Regions from separate parts of the Homo sapiens genome. Here regions 2 and 3 are each linked to region 1. The links come from fine-mapping of genetic effects on gene expression. A gene starts in region 1. Each other region holds a variant in brackets. All regions are shown on one strand. Distances are from middle to middle. Region 1 holds the start of PDPR (pyruvate dehydrogenase phosphatase regulatory subunit). Region 2 overlaps PDPR (pyruvate dehydrogenase phosphatase regulatory subunit). Region 3 overlaps PDPR (pyruvate dehydrogenase phosphatase regulatory subunit).

Region 1 (2,758 bases):
TGGAAATGGCTTGAACCAAATGGTTCATGAGGAAAACCTGTGATATTTTTCATGAAATCGCCACATCTGGGCATCAGGAAAGCCTTCCCCGAGAATGTCTCAAATTGGTCAGCCGTTTTCTCTTTTTTTAGACAGGTAGGTGTCCCCAAGCATTCAATCCTAGCTAAAATATGGAAGTATTTATCTAGCACAGGAGCCTATGGCATAGTTTCAGTCCACTGTCTGGCAGACCTCATCTGGGCTGTCTTTGTGTGATTTGACTGGCCAGTAAATGGGGTATAAACTATGTAGGCTGTGGCCTGGCCTTGTGACAGAGGGGTCCCTGGAACTTGACTGCCACTCCCTAAGAGCAGAAACCGCCTCTTTCTTGTACATTGCTGGATCCCATCATCCTGCACAGTGCCTGGCTACAGGTGGCCAGCAATAAAACACAAGATTGGGGCAGGCACAGTGGCTCACGCCTGTAATCCCAGGACTTTGGGAGGCTGAGATGGAAGGATCACTTGAGGCCAGGAGTTCAGGCCCAGCCTAGGCAACATAGTGAGCCTATCTCTACAAAAAAAAAATTTTTTTTAAATTAATAAAACACAAGATTGGTTTGTGTGGTGAGACAGTATTGAATCCAACAAACGGGAACTGGATAGTGTGGCCCAAGATGCAATGGTGGCTGCAGCATGAGACCCTTATGCATATAATATTCAGTGGAAGAGGTGCCAGGCACTGTTCTGGGTGCTGAGAATAAAGCTATGCATAAGACTAAGGTTCTGTCGACAGAGATCGTGTCACACCAGTGGAAAAGACAGTCATCAAACTTATATCCTTGAGTCAGTGATGAGTTCTAGAAGGAAAGAAAAGGCTGATGTGACAGTGAGGAAGGGATGAGTGGAGACTTCTCTGAGACTTCAGTGATTCCTCTTCCTCTGAGCTGAGCCAAGCTGAGAAGCTGAGAAGAGTAAGATAGGGCCGGGAACTCAGGTCCGTTAGTCCGTCCTCCGAGGTGGGGCGGGCCAGCAGAATGGATTTCCGATCTACTCTGTGAGAGCCTCGCCCAAGAAAGCCCAGAGCCACTTCCAAGATCCGCGCTCCCACGGCGATGAGAAGCGTTTTCCCCCGGGACTGCTTGGCTTAGGACTGGGGACCCACTGGCTTTGGAGTAAGCCCTGGCACGGGCCTCGAGGGAAGAAAGAACTCCCGCGCTCCCCACACTCCACAGGGCCTGCGATCATCTCAGATGTTCCGGTTCCACGTGCAGAAACCCCGCCGGTCCGAGGCCCCGGTTCTAAAACGGCCCTAAGAGTCAAGGCTTCCACAGCTCGCCTCTGAGGGTGGCAAAGAGGCCGCGGGGGCGGTGCCTCGCGAGACCCAAACAAGCCCACGTGGCAGGGGCGGGGCTCCGCGAAGGCGTCACGGCGCGCTCGTGCGCTGCTGAGGTCACGCGCCGGCAGTACCCTTGCCCGGGGGCCGTAAAGCGCGGAAGGTCGCGGTCTCGGCTTCCCCGGAACTTTTTGCTCGCTTCGCCCCGCCCCCTTCCCATCCCCGAACCCCGCTTTCCGGCCCGCGGCGACCCCAGGCAACTGTTGTGGCTGCCGCATTGCTCCCGCCGGGCTGTAGCTGAGCGCGGAGCCCGTGGGGACCGGTGAGGTAAGGAGATAGCTTCGGGGCAACTCTGGCCTCCCCGTCCGCGCGGGCCTAAGCGCCCCGGGACCCCTGGGTTCCCCTCTTTCTCCTTTGGTTTCGCCCGGGGGTGGTCCCCGCTAGCTCACGCTTCCAGTGGGTTCCGCCTGGCCTCTCGCGAAGTCGCGTCCGGGCGCCAGTACTCGTCCCCGTAAGGTTGTCCGCTCGTGCCTTGGCTTGTGTTCTCGGCTACCCCTGGGCGTGCGCACCGCTCCTCCAGGAGCCTGCACTTCAGCCCCGATGCCAGGGCGGCCGGGGTGACCTCGGGCTCCCCCGTCTCGGGCTTGCACACCCCTGCGGCGCAGAGCCAACTCCAGCTTGTCTAGCCCGGTCCTCCATCCCTGCAGATGGAACTGTTTTCCCGCGTTGAGACGTGCGGTCCGCTTGTGCTTTTAGAACTAAAGACTGCTGCAGAGTCCGGAGGAAGAAGTCACCTAGAAAAATCTGGGACAGGGCAGTAAGCTTCCTTCTTAATGTTTGACCTTTGGGGGCCGATGTGTGATACCTCGGATTTGAATCAAGAATCTCCAAGCCCATTTTCCGCATGCATGTAAACGTGATGTACCGGGATGGGGTCTGGTGGTGGAGGAGGAGCCAGCCTGACGGATAAGCTTTTCCAGTGGCAGGGACTTGTGTTAATTTCTTTTTTCTTTTTTTTTCTTTTTTCCGAGACAGAGTTTCACTCTGTCGCCCAGGCGGGAGTGCAGTGGCGCGATCTCGGCTCACTGCAACCTCTGCCTCCTGGGTTCAAGCAATTCTCCTGCCTCAGCCTCCCAAGTAGCTGGGAATACAGGTGTGCGCCACCACGCCCGGCTAATTTTTGTGTTTTTAGTAGAGACGGGGTTTCACTATGTTGGCCAGGCTGGTCTCGAACTCCTGACCTCGTGATTCTCCCGCCTCAGCCTCCCAAAGTGCTGGGATTACAGGCGTGAGCCACTGCGCTCGGCCAACTTGTGTTAATTTCTTAAACTTGCGTGATCACCTGGTGTACTTGTTGAAAAATACAGCTCCCTGGAGTGGCAGGATCAGAATCTGCCGAGGTGGACCGTGGGAATCTGTCATTTTTAAACAAGTGTCCCAGGTG
Region 2 (2,758 bases), 49 kb after region 1:
CTTACACTCCAGAATGTCAGATGGTGGGTGCAGATTGGAAGAAAGAGAAAAGTTCATCTCGGTGTGTGGGTTCCCATCCGCCCCACATAGCCTCTCCTTCTTCGGAACAATGGGCGTGGGGTAGAAAGCTCTTTCAGTGAAGGGTGTTCTAGCAGCTCAGTTAACACTTTACTCTCCAGTCAACACTTGGGACATATAAAAATGCCATTGTAACTACTGTAGAGTCCTGTGACTCATCGTTTGTGTTTGTCAATTTGCAGTTCAGCTTAGCCCTTCCCTGTTCCTGTGTAGTTACAATCTGGCCCTGAAGACATCCGAGGCACTTCAGTAAGTGGGATCTTTTCTAGAGATCCTGGGTGACTTTGGGTGCACAGGGTGACCGAGCATTTCTGCCCCTGTGAATGTGGCACTAACACTGTGCACTGTCTCCACCAAGCAAGGTTTCCACTGAGTTTCTTCTCATGTTACTGGGTTTGTAAATGAATAAACACATTTTAACTACTCTTGCACGGCTGCTTGTGAAATGTTCTTCATCTGTAGTGACTTAAATGTGTTTGCCACCACAAAGCATAAACAGCGTGCAGAGGAGAGTGTGTACCTCCCTGTGTGTACCAGTGTGAGGGAGGATTTGGGGACGGGGGTAGAGAAGATGTAGGTGTTTATCTTACCCTCCCTGCAGCGCTGGAGTGGCTGGGGGTAAAAGCTTCCCGCCTCCTGAAATTCCGACCGGCCTTCTGCCTACAGCTGACCTCAGGAGGAACCTGCCACCTGATGTTCCACACGGGCACGTGTGCACTCAGGTTTGTGTGGAAAGCAAGGGGGGTCGTGTTCTCACCCTGTGGAAACAACCCTGAGAGAAACAACCAGTGCTCTTTTTCTACACCAGCTTCCATCCACAAGTTGGTCCCTGGACTTGACCTGTTCACTAATTTTTTTTTTTGAGGCAGAGTCTTGCTCTTTTGCCCAGGCTGGAGTACAGTGGTGTGATCTTGGCTTACTGCAACCTCCACTCCCAGGTTCAAGTGATTTCCTGCCTTAGCCTCCAGAGTAGCTGGGATTACAGGCACGCGCCACCATGCCCAGCTAATTTTTGTATTTTCGTAGAGACGGGGTTTCGCCAGGTTGGCCAGGCTGGTCTCAAACCCCCAACCTCAAGTGATCCACCCACCTTGGCCTCCCAAAGTGCTGGGATTACAGGCGTGAGCCACTGTGCCTGGCCCAAAGTAATTTTTGAGTAGTTTTTTTTTTTTTAAGTATTTGTACTTTTGAGAATCTCATAGGTTAACATGTTTACAACAATCTCTTCATCTTGTCTTCTAAATCAGCCCCTTCTATTCCAGTTCCAGGAATAGTCAACCACGCCAGAAACCTGGGACTCACCTGGTCTCCCCACTCGCCTCTCCCTACACCTCCCGCTCATTACCCAGCCTCACAGGGCTGTCTCCTCAGTGCCTCTCCTCTGTTCGGACCTCACTGTCCCCACCACTGCTGCTGTGGCAGAGAGGGTTGTCAGCCCTGACTTCGAGAACAATCTCTTACTGATTTTCCTGCTTCTCATGTCA[T/TC]CCCCCCTCCCTCTGCAGGGTTGTCTTTGTAAAACAGGGGAGGTCAATTTACTCACTGCCTTGAAACCCTCAAGGGACTCCCCTTTGTCGTGAGACAAAGCTCTCAGTCCTTAGCCTGGCCAGCCAGGGTCTCCAGGGTGTGGCAGGCCACGCTGCCCCAGGGCTCCGGCCTGCGCTGCGTGTGATGTGGGTCCTGCAGCCGAGTGCGTGCTCGCCATCCACAGCTGGATCTCACCTCGAATCCTGCTTTCCAGTCACACTGAGAGGTCTCCCACTCCCATATTTGCTCACTAAAATGCCTCCTGGCAGCCCTCCCCTGTGCTTGTGGAAAGTCGCAAATTGAGGATCACATGGACCCCCACTCCCCCAAGTTGTCCTGACAGAGACCTCCTGTCTTTCATTTGATTGATTGATTGAGACGGAGTTTTGTTCTTCTTGCTTAGGCTGCTGGAGTGCAGTGGCGAGATCTCGGCTCACCACAACCTCCGCCTCCCAGGTTCAAGCAATTCTGCCTCAGCCTCCTGAGTAGCTGGGATAACAGGCATGCGCCACCATGCCTGGCTAATTTTGTATTTTTAGTAGAGACGAGGTTTCACTATGGTGGTCATTGGTCAGGCTGGTCTCGAACTCCTGACCTCAGGTGATCAACCCACCTCAGCCTCCCAAAGTGCTGGGATTACAGGTGTGAGCCACAGTGCCTGGCCCCTCCTGTCTTTCAAAAGCTCTGCCCAAGACCACCATCATCCCACAGTGGAGCCTTTCCTTCCCCAAGAGAATGGCCCCTTTGGGGTCCTCACACACCCGTTTCTGATGTGTCTTTATTTGGTTATCTGCCCTGCTCCTTCTGTAAGTCCCTCGGAGAAAGACTCGAATTCTCCCAAACTCCAACACCTCACATGGTGTTTGGTGTTTAACAGATGATTAAATGAATGGGCAAAAAGTGGAGGGCAAAATCTTTAAAATGTCTTTTAAGATTTAAGGATTTTAGGCCAGGTGCGGTGGCTCACACCTGTAATCCCAGCACTTTGGAATGCCGAGGCGGGCGGATCACCTGAGGTTGGGAATTCGAGACCAGCCTGACCAACATGGAGAAACCTTGTCTCTACTAAAAATACAAAATTAGGCGTGGTAGCGCATGCCTATAATCCCAGCTTCGCGGGAGGCTGAGGCAGGACAATCGCTTGAACTCAGGAGGT
Region 3 (2,758 bases), 27 kb after region 1:
CTTAATTTGTTATTCTACCTTGATCTCTGATTTATTTTCTAGGAAGCCCTTAGAAAGCTTTTGTATCAGGAATTGAACCAAACCACGTGGGTTCAAGTTGTAATTTCATTTTCCTGTACTGAGGAGCTGTTCTCAGACTTTGCCAAATGGTATCTAAATATTTTGGGCATACTTATGCTCAGGACTAAGTTTCTGTGTTGGCTCTGACCACCATTCTTGGTTGCAAGTAAACTGTTAGTTTGGTAGTTGAACAACATTGTTGGTGAGGACTCTGGATGGCCTTTAATGCCTGAGTGCTCACTTTTGGCCTGGGAAGAGGATGTACATCCATGGAGATGAAGGACCTAACAGCAATATGTTTAACTGCTAAGGTTCTTTAATTTTAGCAAATATTTTGGTTAAAATGTTGAACTTGGCTGGGTGTGGTGGCTCATGCCTGTAATCCCAGCACTTTGGGACGTTGAGGGAGGTAGGTCACTTGAGGTCAGGAGTTTGAGACCAGCCTAGGCAACGTAGCGAAACCCTGTCTCTACTAAAACCAAAACCAAAAAATTAGCCATGCCTAGTGGCACACACCTGAAGTCCCAGCTACTTGGGAGGCTGAGGTAGGCGAATCACCTGAGCTGGGGAAGTTGAGGCTGCAGTGAGCCATGATGGTGCCACTGTGTACTCCAGCCTGGGCAGTGGGACTGAGACCCTGTCTCAAAAAAATAAAATACAAAATCAAAGTTTTTTGTTTTAAAGTTGAACTATTATAAGCCTAAATTTCCCTACCCATAGTTACTTTGGAACCTGTACAAATCATAATTGAGCTTGAGCTTCTGCTTGGTGATATGACACTTTTGGTAGCCAATTCTCATGAAATAGAAGTGGCAGGCACATAGAAAATGGGGAAGGCGCCAGGCGCAGTGGCTCAAGCCTGTAATCCCAGCATGTTGGGAGGCTGAGGCAGGCGGATCACTTGAGGTCAGGAGGTCTGGCCTGACCAACATGGCGAAACCCTGTCTCTACTAAAAATACAAAAATTTAGCCAGATGTGGTGGTACGTGCCTGTGATCCCAGCTACTTGGCAGGCTGAGGCAGGACAATCACTTGAACCCGGGAGATGGAGGTTGCAGTGAGCCAAGATCTCACCACTGCACTCTAGCCTGGGTGATAGAGAGGGATTCCATCTCAACAAAAAATAAAAAAAAAATAGAAAAGAAAATGGGGGAGGGGATGATAGAACCGAAAGTACTAGGAGATGGAGAGATTGTCACCATGCAGAGAACCCCACCTGGCTTCCTTCTCCTGTCTCCCAACCTCCCCAAGCCTTGATGTGCCTTTTGTTTGGGATGGTGTGAGATCAGGGACCACAGATCACACTCTTCTGGCTTTTTTTACTTATTGCTGTTGAAGATTAGACCTTAAGGGAAATGAATTTTTTTTTTTTCCGAGACAGTCTTGCTCTATTGCCCAGGCTGGAGTGCCGTGGCGTGATTTCGGCTCACTGCAACCTCTGCCTCCTGGGTTCAAACAATTCTCCTGCCTCAGCCTCCCGAGTAGCTGGGATTACAGGCGCCTGCCACCATGCC[T/G]GGCTAATTTATGTATTTTTAGTAGAGACAGGGTTTCACCACATTGGTCAGGCTGATCTTGAACTCCTGACCTCGTGATCCGCCCACCTCGACCTCTCAGTGCTGGGTTTACAGACGTGAGCCACCACACCCGGCCTAAGAGAAATGAATTCTGACCCTAGCTTTGTTGTGTGAATAATGTCATTGGTACAATACAATATAACTTCTCAGATTTCAGAGCCACCTAATCAAGCTGCAATATGTACCCTTTCACTTCAGAAGTGAGTTAATTATCAGGGAGGAAATGTCTGTAACAGGTCTGAGATCCTAACACAGGCACAATGAAGAATCGAATGCCATTTTTTCACATTTTGTTACCACCTGTGTCCCACTTAGTAACCTTCTTCTCTGCTATGAAGCTTGGTAAGGTTTAGGACCCTGACCTTTCTGCCATCATTTCTACCTACTAATGTGGAATGCTGAATGTGAATACAGGCCGAGTCATGCCGTGACACGTAGCTCCAGGGAGGGACGATAGCAGCTTGGCAGGATTGTCTTTTCCTTCTGGAGCATGCCTGATACACTGGGTAATTTTGAAAATTAGACTACATTAGCCTGGAAATTGGGCCGGGCAGAGTGGCTCACGCCTGTAATCCCAGCACTTCGGGAGGCTGGGGCGGGCAGATCACCTGAGGTCAGGAGTTTGAGACCAGCCTGACCAACATGGAGAAACCCTGTCTCTACTAAAAATACAAAAATTAGTGTGGCACGGTGACACGTGCCTGTAATCCCAGCTACTCGGGAGGCTGAGGCAGGAGAATCGCTTAAACCCAGGAGGCAGAGGTTGCAGTAAGCCGAGATTGTGCCACTGCACTCCAGCCTGGACAACAAGAGCAAAACTCCGTCTTAAAAAAAAAAAAAAACTACGTTAGCCTGGAAAGCTCTTTTGAATAGAAACAACTCCAGAGTCTAGTGGACATGGGCTACTCAGGTCTAGAATCTGTGTCTTGGGCTTTGATAGACTACTCGTGTCTTTTCTAGCTTTGATGTATGATCTGAAGGTTCCCCGCTGGGACTTCCAGACCGGTAGGCAGTTACGCACCTCTCCTCTCTACGACCGGCTGGATGCACAGGGAGCCAGGTGGATGGAGAAACATGGATTTGAGAGGCCAAAGTACTTTGTTCCCCCCGACAAGGGTAAGAAG

Evidence for each region. PIP is the estimated chance that this variant, and not a neighbour inherited with it, causes the effect.
Region 2: its variant is the best candidate, but not a certain one, in a credible set for the expression of PDPR in whole blood (INTERVAL, PIP 0.59).
Region 3: its variant is the best candidate, but not a certain one, in a credible set for the expression of PDPR in whole blood (Lepik 2017, PIP 0.76).

The regions. Positions count from the first base shown.
Region 1 is chr16:70,112,800-70,115,557 of GRCh38, forward strand. It overlaps PDPR (pyruvate dehydrogenase phosphatase regulatory subunit), which reads left to right and starts at 1,533. Exons shown (of 19, transcript NM_017990.5): 1 at 1,533-1,641; 2 at 2,022-2,131. RefSeq lists enhancers at 1,497-1,546, 2,067-2,758.
Region 2 is chr16:70,162,029-70,164,786 of GRCh38, forward strand. PDPR (pyruvate dehydrogenase phosphatase regulatory subunit) reads left to right here. Exons shown (of 19, transcript NM_017990.5): 19 at 1-509. The region is part of intron 1 of LOC400541 (a long non-coding RNA gene); the gene reads right to left. Among named protein-coding and RNA genes, the nearest start is that of CLEC18C, 10 kb to the right of the region's middle. The variant T/TC (reference allele first, on the strand shown) is at 1,563.
Region 3 is chr16:70,139,640-70,142,397 of GRCh38, forward strand. PDPR (pyruvate dehydrogenase phosphatase regulatory subunit) reads left to right here. Exons shown (of 19, transcript NM_017990.5): 12 at 2,595-2,750. Among named protein-coding and RNA genes, the nearest start is that of PDPR, 27 kb to the left of the region's middle. The variant T/G (reference allele first, on the strand shown) is at 1,575.